Regions from separate parts of the Homo sapiens genome. Here region 2 is reported to be linked to region 1. Evidence: microRNA targets listed by miRTarBase, many of them from high-throughput screens and not tested one by one. Region 1 holds a microRNA gene; the other region holds the end of a gene's coding sequence. Distances are between the middles of the regions.

Region 1 (4,373 bases):
AGTGGCTTCCTCCAGGGCTGTGGGCTGCAGGCCCCACCCCTGAGCACACTGGGCTCCCCCAACAGGCTGCTTCCCCCAAAGCCAGTGAGATACAGCAGAGGAAGCTGGGGTCTGGCAGCTGTGGGCTGGCCTCAGAGGTCCTGGCCCTTGCTTACTACTCCTTCCCTGAGTTAGAAGCCAGTCAGGAAGGGCAGCAAGTCCTGGACTCTTTGGCAGCTGCACGGTCCTCGGGAGCACGGCTGTGCCGGGGGTTACAGAAACTGTTTTCTTGGTGACCACTGGGTTAGGTCAGGTTGTGGCCCTCGCACACAGAGCCACAGTCCAGCAGAGCCCAGCTGTGTATGTACACTGTGTTCTTCACCTGTCCTTAACCCAAATGTGGTCTCCATTTCCTCCTCTCCTCCCTCCTTCCCTCCTCTCCTCCCTCCTTCCCTCCTCCCCGCCTCTTCCCTCCTCCTCTCCTCCCTCCTTCCCTCCTTTCCTCCTTCAAGACCTTGCATGTTGCTCAGATGAGGTTTCTCCTTTAAAACAAAATTCCCTGGTGCTCAGCTGGGCCCAGCCAGGCTGGACAGTCCCCGGTGGCCACCACGGCCGTCCACAGCCCTGCTCGTGGGCCCCAGGGCTCAGCCAGCCGCCTCTCTCTTCCAGTGTGTGATGACGCTGCTCTACGCCTTCTCCAAGGACATCTTCTCCGTCATCAACTTCTTCAGCTTCTTCAACTGGCTCTGCGTGGCCCTGGCCATCATCGGCATGATCTGGCTGCGCCACAGAAAGCCTGAGCTTGAGCGGCCCATCAAGGTGAGCCCGGGGCCTCCCGCTCACCCAGGCACCCTTCACAGAGGCAGGGTCCGTGGGTCCTAAGGACCCTGAGTTGGGAGCCAGCATCCCAGCTCAGCCTCTGGACCTGCCCCTGCCTGCATGCACCTGGGTCGACTAATTCCGGTGATGACTTGACCACCAGCTACGAGGGTGCCAAGTGTGACTGCAGGAGCCGGGGTTCCTCAAAGGACAGCAGATGGCACAGAGCTTGTGCTCCGTTGGGTGGAGGGAAGCAGATAAGGACACTGCAGTCATAGGTGGGCGGTGGTGAGCCCCGGCAGGGGCGGGGCAGAGCCGGGCCTGGCGCAGCATTCAAAGGGCCGTCGGGGCTGTGCTGGCAGGAGGAATGCAGGGAACCCGGCCCGAGGAGCGCCTGGGCCCAGCTGGACTCTCCTGGACTCTCCCCGTCCCCAGCGGCTCATTCAGAGGGGTAGCTGTTATCCGTGGGCTGCCTTCTCCAAAAACGGGGCCGTCCAGCAGAGGCCATGCTCTTGCCTGGGGCCCAGCAAGTCCCGCCGCCCTGGCCCTGACACAGAACAAGAGGCCAGAGCCCCTGGTGGCTGCTAGCCAGCAGCTTTTGTCACTCAGCTGGCCTATGGCTGTCACAGTAGCCCCTGCTTCCCTGCCCGGACCATCTCTCCCTCTGTGTTCCCGAAGCCTGGGGGCCCCGGGGGTGCCTGTGAATGCTGTTGAACGGGCTTTAGGCTGGGCGCGGTGGCTCACGCCTGTAATCCCAGCACTTTGGGAGGCCGAGGCGGGCAGATCACAAAGTCAGGAGATAGAGACCATCCTGGCTAACACGGTGAAACCCCGTCTCTACTAAAAATACAAAAAAATTAGCTGGGCGTGGTGGCGGGCGCCTATAGTTGCAGCTACTCGGGAGGTGGAGGCAGGAGAATGGCATGAACCTGGGAGGCCGAGGTCGCGCCACTGTACTCCAGCCTGGACGACAGAGTGAGACTCCGTCTCAAACAAACAAAAAAAACAGGGGCTTTAAAATACAGTCAGCACAAGAACCCAGATGCTGCCCCAAGAGAAGGCTGCAGAGGGCAGGGAGGAGCCGCCCTACATGGGCACCAGCTTGTGCCTGCTGTGCCAGCCTGGGGCAGTGCCTAGGGCACAGGGCAGTCACTGCGCACAGCGGGGGCTCAGCCCCCATGGGGACCTGGGCATGGGGTAGGCTCTACCCACTGTTGTGAGCCTGGGCACGGGTTGGCGTCTGTTCCCTGGGGACAGGGCAGTCATGCAGCCCACACTGATGGGCTGGGACCTGTGGTCAGCCCTGCATCTCCCAGGGTGCCCTGTCCAAGTATGGATTCAGGACAGCTGAGTCAATCCCCCAGCCATGCCGAGCCGCAGGTTGCGGCCTGCAGGCTCCTTGCAGCCCTGCCTGGCTTCTGTGCCGGGTGGAGCTCATCTGCTGAAGGTGACAGTTTAGGCTGCAGCTTCAGGGATGGGCTTTTGCTCAGCGCTGTCCACAGCGGCGTCTCCAAGAGGGTGGTCTCCTGGCTTATTAGTGGGTGGCCACTGTCTCCTGGAAGCATCAGGCCCCTGTGCGTCCTGGCGGCTCAGGGTTTCCAGGCCTGTGATGTGGGAATGGAGCCGTGACCTTCCCTGCCCGTGGGAGGCCTCGGGAGACGAAGCTGTCTCCTTCCATCCCTCATCATAAGCCGCCTGAGCCCCTGGCAACATGCCCAGCACTGTATGCAGAGTCGAGGGCGGGACAGCCCGGTGTGTGAGGCAGATGGAGTGCAGATCGCATCTTGGTGACCTGGAAGTCAGCAGCCGTGGGTGTGGAGGGCCCAGGAGGGCTGAGGAACCTCGGGGCATGGGGGAGGGAGGCTGGACAGGAGAGGGCTCACCCAGGCCCTGTCCTCTGCCCCAGGTGAACCTGGCCCTGCCTGTGTTCTTCATCCTGGCCTGCCTCTTCCTGATCGCCGTCTCCTTCTGGAAGACACCCGTGGAGTGTGGCATCGGCTTCACCATCATCCTCAGCGGGCTGCCCGTCTACTTCTTCGGGGTCTGGTGGAAAAACAAGCCCAAGTGGCTCCTCCAGGGCATCTGTGAGTATCTCGCTGGCCCACAGCCCGTGGTACCCTCTGCCCTGGGCAGCGAAGGGAGTTGAGAGGCGTCGGCCGTCTCCACCCACATGGGGCGAAGCGTGTTGGGTGGCAGGAGGGTTCAGGTCACTGCAGTGTCCGCCAGTGACACGCAGCCCACATGGTTCAGGGATAAGACACACAGCGCAGCACCAGCTAATCTCTCAGGACGAGGGATTCCGGAAAACCAGGCTACTGCTGCCAAGTAACAAAATCCTGCTGGCTGCCACCAGCGGACACAGCAGACTTACCCAGAAAGGCAGAAAGAGGCAGAGGCAGGCGGATCACTTGAGGTCAGGAGTTCAAGACCAGCCTGGCCAACATGGTGAAACTCTGTCTCTACTAAAAATACACAGATCAGCTGGGTGTAGTGGCACACACCTGTAATCCCAGCTACTCAGGAGGCTGAGGCAGGAGAATCACTTGAACCCGGGAGACGGAGGTTGCAGTGAGCCGAGATCGCACCATTGCACTCCAGCCTGGGCGACAGAGCGAGACTCTTCTCAAAAAAAAAAAAAAAGGCAGAAGGAGAAACCCGCCCCCCGGCCCTGTGTGCAGCGGCAGCCCCAGGGGTGCTTTGTCACCAAGCTCAGGACCCCGTCCTCAGCGCCTGCAAATGTGGCCAGGCTCGTAGAAAAAGGCCGGGGTGCTTGCGGGCCTACATGCTGATCCCCATGTCACTGGGTGGCTTGGAGAATTCCCGGGATGGCAGCAACACAGGCAGGGAGACCCCCCACCCCTACCCCACACTCTGATCACCGCCAGGGTCATGGTAGAACATTTGCCTCAAGCTTTGCAGTGGGATCTGCATTAACTGTCATTCAGGACACCAAGAGCTTAAAGCAAACCCCCGTCTCTATCCTGAAAGCAGTCCCCCTCCACAGAGTGATGTCTCTGTAGACAGTCCCAGGCGCGACAGGTCTTCCGAGGACCCGTTAGCAGATTGGCCCCTCCGGCCCTGCCTGCTGTGAACAGTCCAGGCATGTGTCCAGGTGGTGGCCCGGGTGTGGACCTGCAGGAAGGCCTGTCATCCCCCCGTTGCACTTTGCTGAGACACCAGGGCCTGGTTCGTGTGCCCCAGGGGCCGCACTCTGCCTCCCCAGGGTTCTGAAGCAGGCGAGGGGTGGGCCGAGTGGGATGTGGCACTTCCGCATTTCAGTTGAAGACAGCGCCTCGGGCACCCGGCACCCACATGCGCAAGTACACAAGGGAAGGTTCCTTAAAATCCCAGCGCTGGGCAGCGGCGCTGGGTTTGGTGACAGCAGGGCTGGGGGAGCCCCAGCTCACGCCCCCGTGTCCCACGGGTGCCTACCCAGCCCCCAGGCTAACACAGCTGTCTTCTCTCCTGACAGTCTCCACGACCGTCCTGTGTCAGAAGCTCATGCAGGTGGTCCCCCAGGAGACATAGCCAGGAGGCCGAGTGGCTGCCGGAGGAGCATGCGCAGAGGCCAGTTA
Region 2 (4,373 bases), 84 Mb from region 1:
GAGGCTCATGGTCTCAGGGGCTGGAGAGAAAGGGGTTGCACAACGTCCTGGTCTGGCTCTTTTCAGTTCTTCCTCCTGTGAGTTTGGAGCGGCATTTGAGTCTGCAGGTGAAGAGGAGGGCGAGGGGGAGGTCAGTGCCTCGCAGGCAGCCGTGCAGGCGGCGGACACAGACGAGGCGCTGAGGTGCTACATCCGCTCCAAGCCGGCCCTGTACCAGAAGGTGCTGCTGTACCAGCCCTTTGAGCTGCGGGAGCTGCAGGCAGAGCTGAGGCAGAACGGCCTCCGTGTGTCCTCGCGCAGGCTGTTGGACTTCCTGGACACCCACTGTATCACCTTCACCACTGCCGCCACCCGCAGGGAGAAGCTCCAGGGCAGGAGGCGGCAGCCTCGGGGCAAGAAGAAGGTGGAGCGGAACTGATGGGGCCATCCCGACCCCACCCCAACCTGCCATCAGCAGCCCCCACCCCCGCCATTTGCAGGGAGGACCTGGGACACCCAGCGTGGGTCAGGCCTCCACAGGCATTTCTGGGCCTGGGGACCACATCAGCTCTGCGCTGTGATGATGACCACAGCCCAATCCAGGGCTTCCTCCTCTGGGCTCTGCTTTCTAGGGTGGCATTTGGAGCATGTCACCCACTGGATTTACAGACTCCAGCCCCTTCCTCTGTCCGTGCTCACAGTGTGTCTCCCTTTTTGGTTTTCTTTTTTTTTTTCTTTTTGAGACAGTCGTGCTGTGTCACCTAGGCTGGAGTGCAGTGGCACAATCTCGGCTCACTGCAACCTCCGCCTCCCGGGTTCAAGCAATTCTCCTGCCTCAGCCTCCCAGATAGCTGGGACTACAGGCACACGCTGCCACGCCCAGCTGATTTTTTATATTTTAGTAGAAACGGGGTTTCACCATGTTGCTCAGGCTGGTCACAAACTCCAGAGCTCAGGCAATCCGCCTGCTGCGGCCTCCCAAAGTGCTGGGATCACAGGCGCCAGCCACTGCGCCCGGCCCAGTGTGTCTCCCTTAACCCAAGAGGGCCCTCAGCTGTCCCAGGGGGCAGTGGGCCATCACCAGCTGGCCAGGGCATGGCCTATTCTGCCACATTTGCCACCCTCTGAGCCCACCAGTCCTGGGCACAGCTGCCCTACATGTCTGTCCTGAGATGGACGTCAGGTCCAGCCTGCCCCGGCAGCCCGGGCCCGTCCTCCTCAGCACTCAGGCCAACCCCAGCCACCGCCAGCCTGAGACCAGGTGTCCTGAGGCTCCCTGCACTGCCACAGCCCAGATGCAGTTCTCCTGACCCAGCCGTGCTACCCGGACACTTGTCATTGTTACCAGCAGTCTCCAAACTGGACAGTGCACAAGGGCCCAGAACAACTCTGATGCCACCACAAAACAAACATGTTCACTAGCGGATTCCATTCTTTGGGTTAAAGCTGCCTCCAGCCTCAGGAGCAGTGTGGAGGAAGATGAGGGCCAGGAAAGAAGGAAACCTTGGTTTCTCCATCCTTGTGAATGTCCTCGTCTGTTTCAAATACAGTGCAGTCAGTTTTATATGATGTGCAATAAACCAAAAAGGCTTTATTAAAATCTGGCTGCCACACTCCAGGGAGACCACGAGCGAAACGGGGGACCTGGAGGCACCGTGGCCCCTCAGCCCGTGCCCCACGCCTGCAGAAGTCCCCACCTTGCACCTGCCCTTTACTTTGGAGTAACCTGGGCCTGCTGTCTCCTCATTTCAGTTCCCAGACCAGAGATGCAGATGTTCATCCATTAATCCACACACCCGTATCCAACAGAGCCCTGGCTGGGTGCCAAGCTCCAGCCCCCGCACCTCAAAGTGGGGCCCAAGCACCCCCAGCTGCTGCCTCAGCCGGGAGTTGCTACAAAAGCAGATTCAGGCCCCACCCCACAACTCACCAAGACAGCACATGCCTTTACCATTGCGTCCGGTCCAGTGGAGGAGACAGACGCTGGCCTATCCCAGCCTGGTGGGGAGTCGGGCTCCAGTGGCTTGAAGGGCCGTGTCAGGGACAGCCTCCCAGAAGAGGGGTTTGTGAGCTGCATCTTAGGGCTCAGCAGCATTTAGGGGGTGAAATGTGATTTCTGGCGCACATACTATGTCCTGGCACGTGAACCAGCGGAGAGGCCCAGGCCTCCCAGCTTACGGTGCCCGGGGCGAACAATTTGAGAGGCTGAGATCAGCTGTGATCAATCTGAGGCTGGCCTCTGGCCTGTTTCGGAAGGCATCACGCACTGCTTCCTTGATGGGCTGATCCCCCTCCCTGGTGTTAGGGAAGCGAGAGGGAGTGGTGCAGGTGGGGGACTCGGGGCCCCTGTCCGGCCTCGCAGGGTTTGTGGTTTGGGGAAGTATGTGTTATGTGCCATGACTTGAAAGTTCAGAACTTCAAGGCTGGTAAAGATGGGTTGGGGGAGGGGTTCCAAGTAGTTAACAAGCTGGGTTAGGAGCCTTGAGTGCAGTGTGAGCCCAAGGCCAGGGGAGGCATGGCCTGGGGACTGGATTCGAGCCTTGTGGTGACCTTGGATTCAGTTGGGGCTGCTGGACGCTCCCTGGGCTGACAGCGCTGGGCAGAGGCTTGGTTTATGCACTGCCACCCAGCCAGGGGACTGGATGCTGGCCCTGAACCTGTACAAAGCAGCATTTCCTTGTCCTGAAACAAGCTGTGAAGCAGCTGATTCCTCCAGAGGGAAAGGGTTGAAGGAGTCACTGCAGGAACCCACAGAGGCGTGGTGGCATCCAGGAGTAGACCTGGCCCCTGCTACAGGGATGACGCTGACCCGGGCAACATAAAACTAGGTCCAGTTGACAGATGGAAAATGCCTTCTCACAGCGCCTGCAGCAAGACTGGCAGGCAATGGGGCCTCTTCATGGACAAGGCGAGAGAGAGTTACCTTCCAGGAGTGACTGAGAAGGAAGCTGGCATGCCGGGTGCGGTGGCTCCCACATGTAATCCCAGTGCTTTGGGAGGCCAAGGCAGGAGGATCACTTGAGCCCAGGAGTTTGAGACCAGCCTGGGCAACATAGTAAGGCCAAGTCTCTATTTTGAAAACAATATTAAAAACATTTCTAAAGGGGGAGAATAAAAGACTGGCAGCAGAACTTTCACTGGTAACAACTAAATCAGAAAACGGGTCTGTCTATGCCTCACTGTAATATGAACAGGCCTCCAGGCCTGTCCCACTTTTGGTGGCCCCAACCTGGCATGGCTTGGGCACAGCCCCTCAAGGCAGTCACAGGGGAGCCACACCCCAGCCTGGGCCCAGGCAAGGGCACTTACAAAGAAAGAGCCTGCAGGCAGGGGCCTTGCGCTGTTGCTGAGTTAGGAAGGGCTGAGGTCGCTTCCTGTCTGGCTGACCCCAGCTCTGGGTGGACAGAAAGCCCCAGAGTGAGAACAGTTAGGGAGCCCCCAGCCCAGCACCCCCACCTCCACCAGGAGCCAGGAGGACGGCCCACCTGGTTCTCAGCAGAGCGGGCAGAGTGGGGAATGGGACCAGCCCTGTGTGGACTGATGGACATTCCTGCGAGGGGGAGGAACGGGCGGGGCGGGGCGGGGCGGGGCTGGGCTGGGCTGGGTTGGGCTGCTCCCCAAGATCCCGTGGATGAGGCTGTGTCCTCTCAGGCTCCGCATCCATCCCCCTGAGCCACAAAGGGAGGCAGTGTGAGCCTCTGGCCCCTTTTATGTGACGGATACCCACCGGGCCCTGTGGTTTCCAACATCCTGTGGGCGGCCTGGTTTCAGGCGCCTTTGTTGCTCCCCACAGCCGAGGCTGCAGCTGCTGGGTCTGCACTCTGCCTGCCTGGAGCCTCGGGCAGCCTTCTCGAGGGTCCATCGTGTCCTCCCAGCACCCAGCAGGTTCCTGGGTGCTCAGAAAGCATTGTTGGGAGGGAGGGAGAGGAAGGAGGGACAAAAGAAGGTAGGCAGGCAGGGGAATGTGCAGGAGCACTTCTGGTCTGCTGCCTCAGTTCCCTCCCCCCCATCACCCACACAGGCTCTGGGGAACCAGCTAACCCTCCTACCTCCCCTGAGCCACAAGCTGCTCTATGAGTCCAGACCCACTACTCTCCTGCTCTACAACCATTGCTGGCTCCCACTTGCTTGCTGAGGAAAATTCAGACCCCAGGACCCCTGTCCCTTGGCTCCCACCTTGTCACCTCCTTCCCTCAGTGGCCCCATGTTGCTTGCTCCCTGTCCCCAGCGGATGTCCCATACTTTATTGTAATTTTTCTCATGTGGCTTGCTCTGGGCCATGTCCTTCCCCCTCACGCCCTTCCCTGTCAGGGCAGGCCACCCACTGAGGTCCACTTCCAGGGGCCGAGTGCGATCTCCTGCCGCGGACGGCAACATTCTGCTGTTTCCTCTTA

Evidence for each region. Region 1 holds the annotated microRNA hsa-miR-6775-3p (AGGCCCUGUCCUCUGCCCCAG, at 2,684-2,704, shown strand). A microRNA usually pairs through its seed, bases 2 to 8, with sites in the 3' UTR of a target mRNA and lowers its output. Matches are read on the target gene's strand: a 7mer-m8 pairs with bases 2 to 8, a 7mer-A1 pairs with bases 2 to 7 and ends in A, and an 8mer does both.
Region 2: miRTarBase lists SLX4 as a target of hsa-miR-6775-3p. Seed matches in the 3' UTR shown: 7mer-A1 at 1,462-1,468.

What each region holds. Positions count from the first base shown.
Region 1 is chr16:87,832,923-87,837,295 of GRCh38, reverse strand. MIR6775 (microRNA 6775) reads left to right here and starts at 2,636; the gene lies at 2,636-2,704. It overlaps SLC7A5 (solute carrier family 7 member 5), which reads left to right. Exons shown (of 10, transcript NM_003486.7): 8 at 649-798; 9 at 2,705-2,882; 10 at 4,271-4,373. The coding sequence ends at 4,326. SLC7A5-AS1 (SLC7A5 antisense RNA 1) reads right to left here and starts at 1,031. Exons shown (of 2, transcript XR_007065175.1): 1 at 494-1,031. RefSeq lists enhancers at 1-619, 2,711-3,265 and a silencer at 2,399-2,693.
Region 2 is chr16:3,578,387-3,582,759 of GRCh38, reverse strand. SLX4 (SLX4 structure-specific endonuclease subunit) reads left to right here. Exons shown (of 15, transcript NM_032444.4): 15 at 67-1,579. The coding sequence ends at 418. LOC105371060 (a long non-coding RNA gene) reads right to left here. Exons shown (of 2, transcript XR_001752061.3): 1 at 3,707-4,373; 2 at 1,539-3,373. Among named protein-coding and RNA genes, the nearest start is that of NLRC3, 3.2 kb to the right of the region's middle. RefSeq lists enhancers at 1,317-2,112, 4,014-4,193, 4,224-4,273 and a silencer at 3,474-3,573.